Regions from separate parts of the Homo sapiens genome. Here region 2 is linked to region 1. The links come from fine-mapping of genetic effects on gene expression. A gene starts in region 1. The other region holds a variant in brackets. All regions are shown on one strand. Distances are from middle to middle.

The links. PIP is the estimated chance that this variant, and not a neighbour inherited with it, causes the effect.
Region 2: its variant is fine-mapped to the expression of SELENOT in whole blood (INTERVAL, PIP 0.95).

The regions. Positions count from the first base shown.
Region 1 is chr3:150,601,082-150,606,465 of GRCh38, reverse strand. SELENOT (selenoprotein T) reads right to left here and starts at 3,145. Exons shown (of 6, transcript NM_016275.5): 1 at 2,967-3,145. The coding sequence starts at 3,103. LOC124900547 (a long non-coding RNA gene) reads left to right here and starts at 3,283. Exons shown (of 2, transcript XR_007096128.1): 1 at 3,283-3,522. RefSeq lists enhancers at 2,687-2,986, 2,261-3,034, 3,007-3,156, 3,277-3,356.
Region 2 is chr3:150,626,354-150,631,737 of GRCh38, reverse strand. SELENOT (selenoprotein T) reads right to left here. Exons shown (of 6, transcript NM_016275.5): 5 at 4,575-4,728; 6 at 1,302-4,079. The coding sequence ends at 4,604. Among named protein-coding and RNA genes, the nearest start is that of SELENOT, 26 kb to the right of the region's middle. The variant A/G (reference allele first, on the strand shown) is at 3,054.

The sequences.
Region 1 (5,384 bases):
AAACCACAGACTCAGATACACAAGTAATACTGTGCCAGTCTGGTAGACTTCTTGAGATGGTCACATCTTTAGCATGCTTAATTCCTGGCATACAGCAGGTATTACACACAGCCTGGGCAACAAGGCAAGACCAGGTCTCTACAAAAAATATGAAAATTAGCCAGGCGTGGTGGTGCGCGTCTGCAGTCCCAGCTACTTGGGAGGCTGTGGTGGGAGGATTATCGGAACTCAGGAAGTCAAGGCTCCGTGATCATGCCATTGCACTCCAAACTGGGTGACACAGCGGGACTCTGTCTCAGCAAAAAAAAAAAAAAAGGAAGAAAGAAAGGAAAAAAAAAAACGAGAATAGGAAACTCTGTCGTAAGCTACTCTACAAGCTTGATCTCTCAGCACTATGTTGCTATTGTGTTGACTAACAATTGCAAAAGTGGTACAATTACCAGGTGATATATTGAGGTATAGTTATTTTTGATAAAATACTCATGATCACTATAAGGGGAAAAAGTCAGTGGAAATGAAGGTAAAATAGTTCTCTTTTGATTGTTAGCAGTGGTAATTAATGAAAAGCTGCATTTTATAATACTGACTTCAAATGGAATTTTAAAATTCTCATGTTTATCCTCAAACGTATTAGCTTCCTGTCCTTTCTCAAACAAACTTGCAAATTAATGTCCACAAGATTCTAGCAAAACCAGAAACCCAATATTCACTTTACCATAAACAGATTAATCTCTGGGGGGAAAAGCAACAAACAACAAGCTAAGTTGATCTGTATTTGGTGGGTCTTATTAATAACGTTATTTCCCATCTACAGATTAAACAAAAAATGATCTCCGGTGGATAGTGTCAGAAAAATAAAAATAAAAATAATTTTTTAAATGGAAGCATTTTTGTTATATAACATGCTCAGAGTGACTGTAAAAGAAAATTATTAGACTTTTGGGACAGGTCTGTACTTAAAAACAAAGAAAAACAAAGTATCAAAAGTTTAACTGAAGTACTTACTACTTTTTTTTTAAGTTTAATTTGAAGGACTGAATGCCCTTCCCTACGTTTGTTTACACATTTTGAAAACCTTGCTATGAATAGCCTTGGTGGAAGATACACCTGGTAAATTATTGTGACAAGTGTTCCAAAAAAAGCAAACGTAAAAGGGGTATTTTGGAAAAGCAAAAATACAACCAAGAGATAAAAGTAGGATACAGAAAAATTAAATAATTTGAAAACTGCAATTTTTTAACACTTAAATCCGTAAGTATCACAACCCTTAACAATCTTTAGGTTAGTAAGATGATTACCACCTTCTAATTTAAAAATTAAGGAAAAAAGTTAATGGATAAACCATTCTCCCATTTGCAGTATTACATGAAAGATGATATATTCCAGAAACATAGTACATTGTACAGGGAGGTTTTTTTTTTTTTTTTTGAGACGGAGTTTCGCTCTTGTTGCCCAGGCTGGAGTGCAATGGCGCGTTCTCGGCTCACCGCAACCTCCGCTTCCCGGGTTCAAGCGATTCTCCTGCCTCAGCCTCCCAAGTAGTTGGGATTACAGGCATGCGCCACCACGCCAGGCTAATTTTTGTATTTTTAGTAGAGATGGGGGTTTCTCCATGTTGGTCAGGCTGGTCTCGAACTCCCGACCTCAGGTGATCCGCTAGCCTCGGCCTCCAAAGTGCTGGGATTACAGGCGTGAGCCAGCGAGCCCGGCCTTGTTTGTTTTTAATCAGGAGAAATTGCAATGTTTTAGTTTTCACTCAAAAAAATAAAGTCTCACCATCTTATTTTCTAACTCAAACATCACCTTAAGCCGATTTTTAAAAATTATTTTAAAGGTTTGCTTGGTCTTCAGTGAGTAAGTAAAAAGCTAGTTGGAGAAGTAGAAAATCAAAACTTTAATATACTAATACATGAAGTTCTTAAAAGAAGGTTTTAAATGAATGATGTCCAACACCAACATTCCAATGTATCCGGACTCTGATGATTTACTAATCTGGCTATTCTGGGATGGTCGGTTTATCCTGAGAAAATGTCATCTTTGGAGGTGTAAGATTCTCATTTCTATAATTTTACAATTTTGGTGTTTTTTCCCCCATCTTCAGAGCCTTTCAATCCCCACCCGCAACCCCACTTACCGTATAAAATGCATCATTGCCCTGCTTCTAACGATTAGGTTAAAAACAAAATCATTTAAAGAACACTGTCGAAAACTGCCGAGATCTGCTGGATACACAAGACAACTGAAAGGTAGAAAGAGATGCCAGAGCAGGCAACTCCTGGGAGGCAGGTGAGGAGGGAATGCGAGCGAACTGTCAATGTTTAGAAGAACAACGTGCTCCTTTTCTGACACTTTGGAAATGGCAAACAGAACCAGCATCCCCAGACCTTCCTTCCACCCCCTCCAGCTGTCAGACGCCCCATTCGCAAACTCAACAGTCCCCCCAGCAAGTTCAGGAGAAAAACGGCGTCTGTCACTCCCGGATCCTCTCCAATGACCCGAATTAACCTTCATCTAGCCAGGCAGCGAAGCCGCCCGGCATTACCCCGGAAAAGAGGGCAGAAAAAGTGAACTGACAAACGGTTGGCGCTCCTCCGCCGACGCGGCGCCTACTCATCCCCATCTCCGCAGGCAGCCGGGGTGGCTATGGCGTGACGCCGCCAACCAGTCCTCCGTACTAACAGGTGTCCCCCAGTCTTCGCCTTTCAGCGTTTAACCTTCTCGCGCCCTCCTTCCCCATTCCCACTGTTCTAGGAGGCAAAAAACAAGTGAGCAGTTATACCTGGAAAAGGAGGGCGGCCTGACCGCGCTAAGGGGCCGCGAGAAGGCTGGCTGTGGAAGGGCGCCGGCACAGTTCTACGAGGCCAGCGAAGATGCGGCCATTTAGGCCGCGAAGCCGGGGCCTCGCGTAGCCAATGGCGCCGAGCAGAGGCGCGGCGGGGTGGCCGGGGCCCAGTGCACATACTCACCAAATCTGGAACTTGAGCAGCGGCCCCGTGGCGTACTGCATCTTTAATCTCTTGCTGGGCACGCCGCCCAGATTGGCCGAGGCCTCGCTCCGGACCATCGCAGACGCCGCCACTAGGAGAAGCAGCAGAAGCCTCATCTTAAATGAGCCAGCCACTTCGGCCGCCCTCAGACAGACTGCAGCCAGCCCAAAGCCCAGGAGCGAGCTGCTCCCCACTGCGCAGGCGCGATCAGCCAAGGTCGGGGGAGGGGAGCAGTAATGCGCCTGCGCGGCCCGGCGCCCGCGCACACTCCTGGAGTGAAGAGCCGACCTGTTTCACTGTCCTGACTCACCACCATCTTGGTAGTGTGCAAGACTCTGGGACGGCATGAGAAAGGCAGAAAGGGAGCAAAGGAGCTGGTGGGGTGTCACAGGGCCTATGTATGAGGCAGATGTGAGTTCTGCATCCAGTTTTGCAATTTATCCATTTACCTGCCTGAGACTTGGAAACACCTACTTTATAGTCCTGATTCAAGTGTTGGCGGATGGAAGGGAGGAGACTCCTGACCCTCAGAATGGTAATGCTGAAATTTTTTGGGTGCGCTGTTATGGCCTTTTCTTTGATCTTACAATATTGCTTTCTCCTGAAAGAATATTAAACATAAGTTTTAGGAAACCTTTGGACAATTCCAAACATATCCAAAAATAGAATAACTACCTTAGCAAGCTTTAACAGTTACTATACATTTTGACAATCTTGATTTGTCTATATCTCTAAACACTTCTTCCCTTCCTAGGCATATTTGGAAGCAAATCTCAGACATCATATCATTTCATCTGTATATATATATTTTTAAACACGGTCTCACTGTCACCCAGGCTGGAGTTCAGTGGCGTGATCATAGCTTACTGCAGCCTCACACCCCTGGGCTCAAGCAGTCCTGCCTCAGCTTCCCAAGTGGTTAGGAATACAGGCACAGGCAACTATGCCTGGCTTACAATTATTTAAGCACATATTTCTAAAAAAGAATTATTATTAAAAAGAAAAAAAATTGACCACAGTGTTTCACATGTCCGTGTGAAGAGACTACCAAACAGGCTTTGTGTGAGCAACACAGCTGTTTATTTCACCTGGGTGCAAGCGGGCCGAGTCCGAAAAGGGAGTCAGCAAAGGGTGGTGGGATTATCATTGGTTCTTATAGGTTTTGGGATAGGCGGTGGAGTTAAGAGCAATATTTTGGGGGCAGGGGTTGGATCTCACAAAGTACATTCTCAAGGGTGGGGAGAATTACAAAGAACCTTCTTAAGGGTGGGGGAGATTACTGATCAACAAAGTACATTGATCAGTTAGGGTGGGGCAGAAACAAATCACAATGGTGGAATGTTATCAGTTAAGGCTATTTTCACTTCTGTGGATCTTCAGTTGCTTCAGGCCATCTGGATGTATATGTGCAGGTCACTGGGGATATGATGGCTTAGCTTAGGCTCAGAGGCCTGACATTCCTGTCTTCTTATATTAATAAGAAAAATAAAACAAAATAGTGGTAAAGTGTTGGGGCAGCGAAAATTTTTGGGGGTGGTATGGAGAGATAATAGGCGATGTTTCTCAGGGCTGCTTCGAGCGAGATTAGGGGCGGCGTGGGAACCCACAGTGGGAGAGATTCAACTGAAGAAAGATTTGGGGGTAAGGGGTGATATTGTGGGGTTGTTAGAAGGAGCATTTGTCGTATAGAATTATTGGAGATGGCCTGGATGCAGTTTTGTATGAATTGAGAAACTAAATGAAAGACACAAGGTCCGAATAAAAGAAGGAGAAAAATAGGTATTAAAGGACTAAGAATTGGGAGTACCCAGGACATCCAATTAGAGAGTGTCCAAGGGGGTTCAACGTTGTTGTCTGCTTGGTTGGAGAGTTTTTGGGCTCTATCTCTATCCTTAAGTTTTTTTATGTTGTCATATACCAGGCCAGATTGATTTAGGTAAAAACAACACTCTTCATTTAAAAATATACAAAGTCCTCCTTTTTCAGCAGTGAGTAAGTCGAGGCTTCAGTGATTTTCAAGGAAAGAGAGGAGGTGGGAAGGCCAAACTGAGGAATTATGTCTGACAGAAGGGAAGAAATGACCGCGGTGGCCTTCTTAGACCCTGTGGGAAAGGCCTCTACCCACCCAGTGAAATGTCTACCCAAACCAAGAGGTATTTTAGTTTCCTGACTTGAAGCATGTGAGTAAAGTCAATTTGCCAGTCCTCGGCGGGGCAAATCCCCGAGCTTGATGTGTAGGGAAGGGAGGGGGCCTGAACAATCCCTGCAGGGTAGTAGAATAGCAGATGGAACATTGAGAAGTGATTTCCTTGAGGATAGATTTCCACGATGGAAAGGAAATGAGAGGTTCTAAGAGACGGGTTAGCAGCTTGTAACCTACATGGAAGTGGTTATGAA
Region 2 (5,384 bases), 25 kb before region 1:
GAGCGCACAACCTAGATCCCTCGCAGGCACTGTTCACAATAGGATTCTGGCTCCTATGAGAATCTAATGCACTGGTCTGACAGGAGGCAAAGCTCAGGAGGTAATGCTTGCTTGCCTGACACTCACCTGCTGGTGTGCGGCTGGTTTTCTAAGAGGCCACAGACCACCACCAGTCCATGGCCCAAGGACTGGGGACTCCTGGTATACACCACAGACTAACAGTATTAGAATTATTTTGAAGCTTGTTTGAAATGCAAATTACCTGGTACCATTTCAGATCAACTAAATCAGAACCATTAGGAGTGGGATCCAGAAATTTGTCCCAGTGATTTTTAAGCACATTAAAATTTTAAAACCACTACTGTTTGTCTGCATGCTTTTTTATTTTGCTCATGCTTAACATTGGCAAAAGAAAACATTCTGTTAGTCTTATAGAATGGATGACTTTACAGCTTTCTACTGTATCTGAAACCAGTTTATATTTTTCTTCAAGATACAGTTTGGAGCTGGGTTTTTTTTTTTTTTTTTTTTTTTTGAGGCAGGGTCTTGCCCTGTCACCTGCAGTGGTGCAATCTTGACTCACTGCAGCCTCAACCTCCTGGGCTCAAGCGATCCTGCTGTCTCAGCATCCCAAGTAGCTGGGCCTACAGGTGCATGCTACCATGCCTGGCTAATTTTTTTTTTGTAGAGATGGAGTTTCACCTTGTTGCCTAGGCTGGTCTTGAATTCCTCGGCTCAAGCAATCCACCCATCTTGGTCTCCCAGCCATGAGCCACTGCACCTGGGCTGTGGATCTATTTGTTTCTATTTGCTTTTCTGAAGCCTAGGGGAAAAGGAGCCAGCTGAATTAAAAAAAAAAAATCTGATATTTGCTCTTTCTTCTGAGATTGTTAAATTGTCTATACCAGTCAATAGAGGAAAAACATTCATTTTGTTTCTCTCCAGATTTAAGGATGTTAGTGTGAATGTTTCAGGAATTCTGCAGGTTGGGGGTAAAGACAGACAGTGATGTAAACTGTTCCACTTTGCTCCACTCCAGCACAGAATACATCACAGAGCTATTGACAGTTCAGCAGCACTGAAGCACAAGTAGACCGTAAGGCTTGAGAAGTAGCATAAGGTCCAAGAGTATGGTAAGACTTGAGTGCCAGACTGATAGTGAGTCATAAACACTGGTCGGGTTAAGAAGCCATTAAAAAGTAATGATAATAACTTTTATAATGCAAAATTTTGTGAGTATAGTTACCATATAAAGTGCTCTAATGTAGATTTAATTCCACAAAGTAGGAGTTCCTTTCAAATCAGCTTAATCAAAGTTTATTTTCACAATGCTACAGAGGTAAGTCCCCAAACTTTACAATCCTCATTTGTTTCTCTCAAAAAGATCTCTTTTTTTAAAAAAAAGGCTTTAGAATACCACACCATGTTTAAAATCCTGTAAGCTATTTTTGAAATCTAAATTAAATTCTGACAATGATAAAATGTTTGCCAGCCAATCAAAGTCCCAAACTAATTAACATTCAAAGTAAAAAAGAATCATCATTGGGATCTCATTATATTTTGATAGCTGTAAAGGCTGATTGACTCCTGTCATTAATAGTGTTAGTGTCATAAGCAAATAATATCACTTATATTCTAGAAAAGGAAATAAGCATATTTGTCTTGCACATCTTATACACTGAGGTATAAAACCATGTTTTACCAACTTTTTTTATTAATGTACCAAATAATTTCTTCCACAATGGCAACTGTGGTAAAAACCCCCATAGCATTAGCCAACCTGCTGGCATGTTCTATGGTCTTCTAATTAATATAGTGCACAGACATTTATAAACTACACAGCCACAGTAATTTACAAGTAACTAATAAATATTGAAATGCTGGGAATATAACAAAACTACATTCTAAATAGTTTACTTTCCCTTTTTCCTTATATTATTACTTTTATATTCATTCTTCCCACTCATTTTTTTCACTAGACTCTATTAAATTCAAGATTTAAATATGGCTAAGCGTAAGACAAAAGAGATGAGCGTCAACAACACAGCTGAATTTTATCAGTGTCTAAGCCACTTAAAGCTATTCTCCAAAAGATAAGTTATTCAACCCAAGGCAAACAGAGAAAGTTGGAATTGAATCCTAGGTTCTTTATATTTTTAACTGTCAGGTCCACAGGAACATCCAAGGCTCAAGTTTTGAATGTCTACATGTCATGAAGTTAACTATGGCACTAGTGGAATGTCGATTACTGAAGATGAACCCCTAGACACATTCAGCAAGACATTCAACTTGCAGAAGGCAGGGAATTTGGAGTGGTACACAATCAGATAACAAGGTTTCAAGCTCTAGTCAAAGACAAGATGATATTATACCTAAATAACAATTTCTAAGGAACTTGAATAACAATCTCTAAGGACTCTTGTCACTATATGAAGAACTTAAGTTTATGACTCCACACTCTTAATTAAAAGGACAGCCACTTAATCAATTTTCTGCAGTGAATTATTAGACTAACTTCCTAGCATCTGGAGATTACAGTATGTTCCACCTTGAAGCTATCACAATCAAGACCATTACCTGACATGCATTCAACAAATATTCGATGACAAACAAAGTATAAGGTTAATTGTTACAGAAAGTTAGGTCTTCTAACACCTAAGTGTTAAGTGGACTCAATGTTGAACCTTTTTGAGTGCCAACATGACACTCAAAGGAAATGCTCATGGAACATTTCAGATTTCAGATTTGGGATGCCCAACTGGTAAGTATAATGCAAATATTCCAAACTTTGAAAAAAATTATGAAATCTGAAATACTTCTTGTCCCAAGCATTTTTGGAAAAGGGATACTCAACCTGTACCTTATAACTTTTCCTAAATCACTTTTGGCTCTACCACTTCTATTCCTATATGGAAGCTGAAGTATGTTATTACTGCTGTTACATGACTACTCTTCTACATTCTGGTTCTATTTCTGCTAAATTATTCTTACAGTTTTTATCAACTTAAGTTTTTTAAAAAACTGCCTTTTTAGAACTCTGAAACAGTATTTAA[A/G]AATTAAATTTAAAAAATTTTAAGTTTTGTTCATCATATACAATAAAATTCTGATATATGATGTTAGACAAATTATTAGTCAGGTAATTTCTGTTCACCTAGTATCAATGCTATAAAGAGGTTCAAGTGAACTTTCTTTAGTGAGATGAGTTTCAATGATCCTAAAGATGGTAAATGAACGATTATTTGTGTATCTAAAGTGTGTACTCTTAAGAAATTATCCATAAATCAAAAACAAAAATTTAAGCAATTGTTAAATATAATGTTAACAGGTACACTGAGCAATAAATTGAAACTTTTAAATTTAACTCATATCTGCTTAGTTTTTTATTTAGTTAAGTATAAAGGCCCAGTTAATTAATCAATTCATTAGATTGGTCAAGGCATGACACTTTAACTACACAATAGGATTTAAAAAGCAGTTGGTTTTTTTAGTAGTTCTCTGGTAATCACACGCACATACACACATACACAAAAATTTATAGAGTACTCTGAATATAGGATTTCCCCCATAATCTTGCATCTGCTATATTTTGTAAACTGTATAAACTGGACATGGCCAAATTAGAGATGTCTGATAAACTCTTATAAAGTATTTGGGAACTTCAACTGGATTCCCAAAGGATCAATTTTAAACTATAAAAAACAAATATTCATATAAAAGCACAACAGATTTAACAGACATCTTTGGAAAAAAAATCAAATTGTAACTCAATTTTCTACTTTTTCAAATATGACTAAGAAAAAAAGTTACAAGTAGTAATGTTTACCTTAAAAAAAAAACACACACACACATTAACTGGGTGATTTTGTGGGAGGTGGGGAAAGCTATACAGTATTATTGCACTCCATGAATGTGCAGAATTCCAAAATATGCCAGCACTGAAACACTATCTTGCATTGAGGTTTTCCAAGAGGTACAACGAGCCTGCCAAGAAAGCATCTGGTCTGTACTAACAGCTTGCTGTCTTCAGTACAGGCCTTCATAATGTCAGTCACGCTGCTCTTGCAATGATCCCTTAATGCCTGAAAGATATACAGAAAAAAGAATATTTTATTGCAAAAATCACTCATAAAAACTCTTTAGAAAGTGAATTCATTGATCACAAAGAAAAAGTTAACTAATACCTCTCTGTGTTCACACATTTGCCTATAAATTTTTTATCTTGAGTATGTTCAAAGAATTTGCATACTCCCAGGAACTAATTACTTGAAGGTAAGGACAGGAAGTATACACACCTCTAGCATAATATATCAACTCTGGCCATTAGGAATTTAGAGTAAAGAAAATAAGGTTACAGACCCAATCATTAAGCCTTGAAGATAAAATTACTAACAACCTGACTTTATTTTGGCAGGGCCGAACTCTCTTCATACACTTCAACATTTTAATGAAGAATACATCCCTCTGTTTAATCTTAAATTGGAAACTCAAGTGATAATATATGTAATATTTACTAACTTGCTGAGTCATAAGAATCAACAGAAACCTATACATTAGCTATATTTTAAACAACTTACAAAAGAGTTTTCAGTGCTGATAGGTGGTGCTATGATCGATGGTGTGGGATTGAATCCATATGCACATTGAGCTTCATTTCATTGTCAAGAATTTGAACAAGTTGTTGCATGGATGGAAGGTGACCAGATTCCAGCTTAGACCACACAGGTACATCTATAAAAATAAATGGCACCGCCCCCCAAAAAATTAAAGATGATTTTATAATATGCATTCATCCCACTAATATTTATCATCTATGTACACAACTGGGATACAAAAGTAGGCAAAAAAGTACACTGCTTGCTCTCAGGGACTTTACATTCCAGTAGGGGAAATGTCAAAAGAACTACACAAATGGCTACAAAATTACAATTGTGTACTTAGAACTAAAACTAAAAGGCACTACTGTACTAGGAGGGACATATACACAAGGCTCTCCCTGTCTAGTCAGAGAAATAGTATCATTTAAATTGAGATCTAAAAGATAAAGAAAAATTACCAAGACAGAGTGGGGATTCATGAGAGTAGAAAACCTTTGAGGGAGAGAACAGAAATGTAAAGACCAGAAAGTAGCTTGGCACTGAAAATAAGAGAAAATCAGCATAGCTGAGGGAAATATAGAAGAGGAGTGATATAAGGGAGGATGGGAAGGTGGAAAGGATTAGACTGGGGTCAATAAACTGTAAAGGGACAGAAAGTAAACATTTTGGGCTAGGGAAGATACATAGTCTCTGCCACAGCTATTCAACTCTTGTAGCCTAAATGCAGCTGTAACAATACACAAGCAAATGGACATGGTTGTGTTCTAATAAAGCTTTACTTACAAAACA